Regions from separate parts of the Homo sapiens genome. Here region 2 is reported to be linked to region 1. The links are microRNA targets in miRTarBase. Many come from high-throughput screens and were not tested one by one. Region 1 holds a microRNA gene; the other region holds the end of a gene's coding sequence.
Evidence for each region. The annotated mature microRNA hsa-miR-4485-3p reads UAACGGCCGCGGUACCCUAA and lies in region 1 at 1,292-1,311, shown strand. An mRNA with a match to its seed (bases 2 to 7 or 8) in the 3' UTR can be bound and repressed. Matches are read on the target gene's strand: a 7mer-m8 pairs with bases 2 to 8, a 7mer-A1 pairs with bases 2 to 7 and ends in A, and an 8mer does both.

Region 2: the mRNA of TDRKH is a reported target of hsa-miR-4485-3p. Seed matches in the 3' UTR shown: 7mer-m8 at 3,072-3,078.

Annotation. Positions count from the first base shown.
Region 1 is chr11:10,505,197-10,509,587 of GRCh38, reverse strand. MIR4485 (microRNA 4485) reads left to right here and starts at 1,262; the gene lies at 1,262-1,318. It overlaps AMPD3 (adenosine monophosphate deaminase 3), which reads right to left. Exons shown (of 15, transcript NM_001025389.2): 15 at 2,009-3,880. The coding sequence ends at 3,704. It also overlaps the pseudogene MTRNR2L8. RefSeq lists a silencer at 172-466.
Region 2 is chr1:151,770,922-151,775,312 of GRCh38, forward strand. It overlaps TDRKH (tudor and KH domain containing), which reads right to left. Exons shown (of 13, transcript NM_001083965.2): 11 at 4,144-4,245; 12 at 3,789-3,885; 13 at 2,573-3,583. The coding sequence ends at 3,531. OAZ3 (ornithine decarboxylase antizyme 3) reads left to right here. Exons shown (of 5, transcript NM_016178.2): 5 at 156-409. The coding sequence ends at 298. Among named protein-coding and RNA genes, the nearest start is that of OAZ3, 6.5 kb to the left of the region's middle.

The DNA.
Region 1 (4,391 bases):
AGCAAACCCTGACGAAGGCCGCAAAGTAAGCGCAAGTACCCACGTAAAGACGTTAGGTCAAGGTGTAGCCCATGAGGTGGCAAGAAATGGGCTACATTTTCTACTTCAGAAAACTACGATAACCCTGATGAAATTTAAGGGTCGAAGGTGGATTTAGCAGTAAACTAAGAGTAGAGTGCTTAGTTGAACAGGGCCCTGAAGCGCGTACACACCGCCCGTCACCCTCCTCAAGTATACTTCAAAGGACACTTAACTAAAACCCCTACGCATTTATATAGAGGAGATAAGTCGTAACATGGTAAGTGTACTGGAAAGTGCACTTGGACGAACCAGAGTGTAGCTTAACACAAAGCACCCAACTTACACTTAGGAGATTTCAACTCAACTTGACCGCTCTGAGCCAAACCTAGCCCCAAACCCATTCCACCTTACTACCGAACAGCTTTAACCAAATCATTTACCCAAATAAAGTATAGGCGATAGAAATTGTAAATCGGCGCAATAGATATAGTACCGCAAGGGAAAGATGAAAAATTGCAACCAAGCATAATACAGCAAGGACTAATCCCTGTACCTTCTGCATAATGAATTAACTAGAAATAACTTTGCAAAGAGAACCAAAGCTAAGACCCCCGAAACCAGACGAGCTACCTAAGAACAGCTAAAAGAGCACACCCGTCTATGTAGCAAAATAGTGGGAAGATTCGTAGGTAGAGGCGACAAACCTACCGAGTCTGGTGATAGCTGGTTGTCCAAGACAGAATCTTAGTTCAACTTTAAATTTACCCACAGAACCCTCCAAATCCCCCTGTAAATTTAACTGTTAGTCCAAAGAGGAACAGCTCTTTGGACACTAGGAAAAAACCTTGTAAAGAGAGTAAAAAATTTAATACCCACAGTAGGCCTAAAAGCAGCCACCAATTAAGAAAGCGTTCAAGCTCGACACCTGTCATCTAAAAAATCCCAAACACATAACTGAACTCCTTGCACCCAATTGGACCAATCTATTACCCTATAGAAGAGCTAATGTTAGTATAAGTAACATGAAAACATTCTCCTCCGCATAAGCCTACATCAGACCAAAATATTAAACTGACAATTAACAGCCCAATATCTATAACCAACCAACAAGCCATTATTACCCCCACTGTTAACCCAACACAGGCATGCCCACAAGGAAAGGTTAAAAAAAGTAAAAGGAACTCGGCAAATCTTACCCCGCCTGTTTACCAAAAACATCACCTCTAGCATTCTCAGTATTAGAGGCACCGCCTGCCCAGTGACATGCGTTTAACGGCCGCGGTACCCTAACTGTGCAAAGGTAGCATAATCACTTGTTCCTTAAATAGGGACTTGTATGAATGGCTCCACGAGGGTTCAGCTGTCTCTTACTTTCAACCAGTGAAATTGACCTGCCCGTGAAGAGGCGGGCATAGTATAACAAGACGAGAAGACCCTATGGAGCTTTAATTCATTAACGCAAACAACACTTAACAAGTCCACAGGCCCTAAACTATCAAACCTGCGTGAAAAATTTCGGTTGGGGCGACCTCGGAGCACAATCCGACCTCCGAGCAACACATGCCGAGACTTCACCAGTCAAAGCGAATTACCACGTTTAATTGATCCAATAACTTGACCAACGGAACAAGTTACCCTAGGGATAACAGCGCAATCCTATTCTAGAGTCCATATCAACAAGGTGTTAGCTGGACAGACTAAAATAATACCCCGGGAAAAGGAAAGGAACATGTATAGCTTTGCTCATGAACTATAACAGGGTAGAAGTTAGAGAAAATAACAAAGGAAGATTTATCTTCTGGGTCTGGTGAGCTTCAGTTTGAAAATTTTGAGTTTTCCTAGTGAATGTCATTCATGTCGGAGTCTTAGTAAAAGATAAATTAGCTATTATTATTGATAGCTTTTCATGGTGCCCAATCTTAAGAGTAAAAATCTTTAACATTTGCTTTAAATATGATTATCTTTAAATAGTTTTAAACTATTGAGCCACAGTCCTAGCTGACTTTATTTAACAATTTAAAAAAAGATACTTGATACAGATAAAATGACAATGAGAAACTACACAATACTTCCTATGTTAGGGCAAATGTATATAAACGGGGGCTTTTCAAAACTAATCCCTAAGATAACAATGGATTTTCATTCAATTTCATAATTAGCTGTAAGATAGCATATATATCTGCCTAGTAAAAAGACTGCATTTATACTTCCATATGCTGAATTGACCAGTGGAGGGGACAGGCATTATAAAGTCACAAGATGAGACAATCTAAAGTCAAATAAGTTCACAGGCAGAAACTGGATTCTTCTTCTAACTATAATGATTCAAAAAGACCTCCTGTAGTCTGAATTTGACCACAGAAATAGATAGGAAGGTCCTTGAGCAGCCTCTTAAGTACTAAGAGCACATGTCCTTAAAAAGTTGCCAAAAGAAATTCACTTAGTTATTCAATATGCATTTATTGAGCACCTACTACATACCAGGCACTAGTAACACAGATAAAGAGTACACTGATAAAGCTTAATTCAGATTAATCTTTAAAAATGCTTTCTACTTGGCCCCTGGGACCATTGTATCTTCTGAAGTCATCATAGTAGATAAGGGAGAAATTTTGCCTTAAAAAAATGCATCCGGTTACAGTGATTAAAAACACACACACACACACACACAACTAACATTTGTGGGGTCTAATGGAATAGTGGGGAAAAGACAGGATTTGGAATAAGGAAATCCAGTTTAGGCCTATTACTTATTAGCTGTGTGCCCTTAAGTTAAATTTCACTTATCTGGCCTAACTCTTAATTGGTAAAGTGATAATTGGCCTACAGTTGTAGCATATTAGAGCCAAAAGGAACAGAGATCATCTAGTCCTGTGCTTTTTGAAGTTCTTCGTTCAAATGAAAATATTATGTAGCAGCCCCAGTGTAAAACTGATGAACGCAGTCACTTTGACAGCCCCTGAGCATCACTCACTCCCTTCCCTCCCCTACCCTAAAGTATTCATGAGGAGATTCACAGAACACCCTGAAAGCCACTCATCTAGTCCAAACCCTCACTTTCTAGGTGAAGAAACCAAGACTCAGAATAGGAGTGGCTGTTTTCATGAGTACATTTGGCTTCCAACTAGAAAGAGGGAAGGAGGGCTAAATAAAACGGTTTAAGAAATTCACTAAAAACACAATTTGTCAAGAAGGAAGTCTTCCATCTTAACTCCTTCAAAGTAGCCCCTTTATGAAATGGAGCTTTGAAATTGATTGTGTTTAAGGCAGCCAGCCATCCAGAGGCTGAAATGAACAACTACCAATTAGCCTACCTGGGCCAATGGAGAAAAGTATGGCAGAAAACCACATGTTACTTGGCATCTGACCAGGGAAAATCCTGGCCCCAACAGTTCAGGCACTGGCAGTTTCAAGAGAAATACTTGGAAAATTAGGAACAAGTATAGACAAGTGCTCAGCTCCCAGATCCCCAAGGAGAAGTCACCATCTTGTTACTCAGAAATACTAACAAGTGAGCATGTTAACTCTTAAAGTGAGCAGTGCAACCAAAATCACCAGTTTAAAATTTCTTCAGAGGCATCCTCTTCACAGAGGAAAGTCCTAGTTCGGAATCTTGACCACTATTAGCCACAGCAGACTTGAAATTGAACCAAAAAGTTAAAATGCATGTCAAATGCTGGACCTAGTTGGTCAAGGCGGTGATCTCTTCTGATTTCATAGCATCAGACAGGAAGCTGAGCTCATTGCATAAGGTCTCATATCGGAATGCCATCCGGATCTGAGCCACATTTGTCTTTCGAATATCATTTCCTTCAGGTCCTTCTTTATAATAATTTTGTCCCAGAAACTTTTGCTTTTCCTGTGGACCAAGAGAAATACAAATGAAACTATATACTTTTGATTCACTTTCTATAGCCATGTGGGCAGCTTTGACATCAGTCACAGCAAGTCAGACTAGTCCCCCTGAAGCAGATCTTTGGTCAGGACATCTTATCCCCACAGAACTCTTAAAATTCCTGCTGGCCTCTGTGTCCTCAAGGATGTCACCCTGACAACCTCAGTCATCCTCAGACAGCCCTTCATTCCTGGCTGTGCTTTCCTTGATCAGAGAGGAAAGATAAGGTCTGCAGCAGCTGCTGGGGATGGGAAAGGCAAAGGGGAAGGAGGTAAGACTCTAATTAAGAAGCCCCTGAGAGCTGACAAGGACAATGTTCCTGGGGAGGGCCAATCCAAGGCACCACACTGCGCATGAAAAGAATCTTAAGCCTTTAACTCTGCTGCATCATCATCCGACGAGCACAGCCCCTAATGCAACCTCTTCCCAACCAGTGACATCACCCAGGGAGGTGTCGGGGGACCTAACGTACATC
Region 2 (4,391 bases), not on the chromosome of region 1:
AGTTAGAGCCTAGGTCTGTTGGACTAAAGCACATCCTATATGCCTGCACTACACTGCTTCCCAGGGCCACTCCCTAGTGGAAGAAATCAAATCTGGGGGCATACATGTATTGAGTTTTAAAGCATGTTCTAATCATTTGTTCTATCCTTTCACAGGTGCCCTGCTGCGGGCCTTCAGCTACATGGGCTTTGAGGTGGTCAGACCAGATCACCCTGCCCTCCCTCCCTTGGACAATGTCATCTTTATGGTGTATCCCCTTGAAAGGGATGTTGGCCACCTGCCCAGTGAGCCTCCTTGAACATGCTTATTCCAACGCTTTGAGGGGCTGGAAGCCTTGACACATGGAATCAGGGGCCCGGGATGTGATTCAGGACACTTTCCATCCTAGGAATAAAGGGTAGTGCAATCATCAAGTGTTCACGGTTTCTTGGGGGGGTGGGTAATAGGGTTGACTGGAGTGGGATATACACCTTAACAGAGCTAAATTCACTGAAAAGATCACAGGGACCTGAACTACGGAGGAAAGTACCTAAGGATTTTTGGTTCCCTTTGCCTTCCTCCATGCCCCAAACTATTTCCCCATTTATTCTAACCATTTACTGAGCACTAATCAGTGAACTTCCTAGTTCAGAAAGACTGAGCTTTGTTAGGCTGTTTTTATCCATATATTTCAGTTGAGGTGCTATAGATGTGGAGAAAACCAGAGAAGGCACATAGATCTCTTGGCTTTGGCCCAAGTTGGGGGATCTCAACGGACAGAATAGGTAACATAGAAGAGGGCATTCCAGGCAGCAGGAAAAGTACTGGGTTATACTAACAGAATGACAAAGAACCCATCAGAATGGGCTGTAAACAGGTAAGACTTAAAGGCATATTAAAGAAAAAGACTTTTATACATAGTAACAAACTGCAGGTAAGAATGAGACATTACTCATTTTCCAGGGTAGGAAGTCTTATGAATGATTTATATCAGGGAACCTCTAAAGAGTAAAGGTTCCCTACGGAACTCTGGTAGCACCAGTTCCAGGGCTGAGCATGCTTCAGCGAGTTCATTGCAGGCAACATCTGAAACATCAAATAAATGGAAGCTCCTTAAAGATTCCTCCAAGAGTACCTGAACTACTCACCAGAACTGTTCCTTCACTAGAGCCTTTCTGCTAATTGGGACTGAGATTTTTCTTTTCTTTTTTTGGAGACAGCATCTTGCTGTGTCACACAGGCTGGAGTGGAGTGGTGCAATCTTGGCTCACTCACTGCACCCTCTGCTTCCCTGGGCTCAAGCGATCCTCCCACCTCAGCCTCTCAAGTAGCTAGGACCACAGGCACACACCACCATGCCTGGCTAATTTTTTTGTATTTACGGGTTTCAGCATGGTGCCAGGCTGGTCTCGAACTCCTGAGCTCAAGCAATCTGCCCGCCTCGGCCTCCCAAAGTGTTGGGATTATAGGTGTGAGCCACCGGTGCCTGGCTAATACTGAGATTTTTCTGAGAAAATAAATTTTGAGAATTGTGGTTGTGAGAAAATATAGTTGCCATGTAGTATAGAGGTAGACGTTACTAATCCCTAAATTTAAAAAAAAGACCTGTGTAAGGCATCCTTATGTGCTAGTTTTAAATTTTCTAGTTTATCTTGCTTTATCCTTAAAAAAAATTCACTTGCCATTTTTCTACCATCCACATTACTATACATTTATATTTACTTTCAAGCACCTCAAGTACTTCAAGCCTCGCATTTGAGCCTCACAGTACTGTCAGAAAGATGCTATAAGGAAACACGTTAAAATTTTGCAAAAAGTTTACAGTGGAGATCTACTCCTTAAAGATTCCTCCAAGACTACATGAGCTACTTACCAGAGCTGCTCCTAGAATCCAGGTTTCTAGAATCTTAATCTGGGCCTTTTCTTTTGAATAGTATAGGTGGGGTCTTACTCACACAGCCTAAACCTAAATTGGTTCTGGTTCCTAGTGAATTTTTTTTTATGAGACAAGGTTGTGTGGTGGTGCAATCTGGGTTCACTGCAACCTCCGCTTCCCAGGTTCAAGTGATTCTTGTGCCTCAGCCTCCCAAATAGCTGGGATTACAGGTGCCTGCCACCACGCCCAGCTAATTTTTGTATTTTGTATTTTTGTATTTTTTTGAGACAGAGTCTCTCTCTGTCACCCAGGCTGGAGTGCAGTGGCATGATCTCAGCTCACTGCAACCTCCACCTCCCAGGTTCAAGCAATTCTCCTGCCTCAGCCTCCCACGCAGCTGGGACAACAGGTGCATGCCACCATGCCTGGCTAATTTTTTGTATTTTTAGTAGAGACAGGGTTTCACCATGTTGGCCTCAAGTAATCTGCCTGCCTTAGCCTCCCAAAGCGCTGGGATTACAGGTGTGAGCTACCGTGCCCAGCCAGTGAATGGTTATTTCTGAAGTGACTTTAGAGAAAGAATATGAATGTGTATATGGGAGGGACACTTGTTTCATAGATGTGATCCTTTCTGTGAGGCAGTTGGCAGTTTTCACCAGATTTAGGCTCACAGCCTGCTTCCACCTTGTGATTCAATCAGAATTTGGTTTTAGAAAATTTTCTTGAGAACTTTATTCAGCAAAAAAATCCTCCAAATGATTCAAACAGGACTGTATACTCTTCCTCTCTCTCCACGGGTGTATATGTGTGTATACATATAGATATTATACTAGCAATTTAGAAAATTTCCTGAGCCTCCTGTCTCCTTTCTACTTATATTTTAACTAAAGGTTACAGAGAAATAGCTGGAGCAGTTTCAAAAGCCTGTCTCCAATAACATATCAGCAATTGAGGCTGGGAGGCAGTATTCTCTTCCCACTTCCTGAGGCTTTTAAATATAATTATGCTAATTTTTGCCTTTGCCTCCTGATTCAACTGGAGTCTTTGAGTTCACCACTCAAAAGCTTTCCTTAACCAGAGTCACCTGATAAGGTGAGTCAGAAGTCTGCAGAATCACTTCCAATGACGAAAGCCTGACTGTTTCCCAGCCTCAAAAAGGATACAGCCTAGTAGTAATGTGAATCATGACTGGTAGAGGGGACTGAGCCTGACGTTGAACGGCCTGGAAGTAACACAGCAGTATTCAAACACTGGAGGGTTGGGGAGGGATCCGGAGGTGGAATGGGGGAGACACACTTGTAGCGTGGTAGTCCAATTTTTTTGTAGTCTGATGGGAGGAGAATATTAATTTGGTCCACAGCAAGCCAGACTATATGTGTAATAAAGGAAGGACTGCATGGATCCTTTATCATACACTCCTCTCCTCCATGCACCAATTCCTATGCCAAATCCTGCCAAAGACAGAAATACACAAAAAGCTTGAAAGTGCTCAATCTGAGAGCAAGTTAAGCTGCAGGAAAGCAGCTGCAGAGAAGTATATTAAGACAGGGCATGGGAAAGAGGGAATCAAAGCAAGTGCCCCACTGTCGCCCTCATTACTTTCCTGTTGCTACAGATAGATGATAGCTGCACTCACACAGCAAAGCAGATGGCTGAGCAAACTGAAGCCCAGACTTCAGAGTAAGTAGTCATCTTCAAGGTTATCATCACCAGACATGGAAGCAGCTTCTATTGAAGATAAATAAGAAGGAGAAAGTTAGACACTGCCCTATTCTAGCAGGCAATGCCAGCGAGGCTCAAAAGAAAAATGGACCTCTTGGTACTCAATGACCTGACTAGGAACCAAGCCTTCAATTAACCTCCCTACTCTGGAAAGACTGAATGAGAAAAGTTAATCTCCAAAGATGCTCTAGGGAGGAAATACTGCTTGTACCTGATAAGCTGAGGCAGGACAGGGTATGTGTTATCTCTCCAGAGCTCTTTTTGGTCTCAGTGAGCAACGTGCTGAGAGAGGCATCTGTTTCTGTGGCCTGAGTGGATGAAAACAGGAAAAAAGGAGGAACATGTTGGCTTTTAGGAAAAAAGAGGCCACCCTTTCATTCTTCTCATAGGACCTGGTTAAGGCAGTTGCATTTGGCTACCAAGAGGGACAAAATGCTCCTTTGGTCAACTACTGGAGGAGCTCAAAGTCCTTAGGAAAGCTAACACAGTATCAGGACTAGAAGCCCTTAGTGTCTATGTGCTAGATTTGCCTGGAAGCAGCACCCTATATAACTACAATAGCTCACCATGTCCTTCAACATGTCTGGGACAGCTCTGTTTTCTTCTATGTCTTCAGGAAGCTCAATTGCGTATCCTTTGTGTACTAATTCTAGCCCAATATCAAGTTTCTGAGAAGAAAAATGAAAAGGGAATGATGTTCTCTCAGTAAGCAAGGGCAAATTTGAGGAAACAAGGCAGAAGGACTGATACTTTAAAGACATTCCTTTGGTGAGATGGTGAGAAGGATCTTACAGTAAGAGTAATATCAGATAAG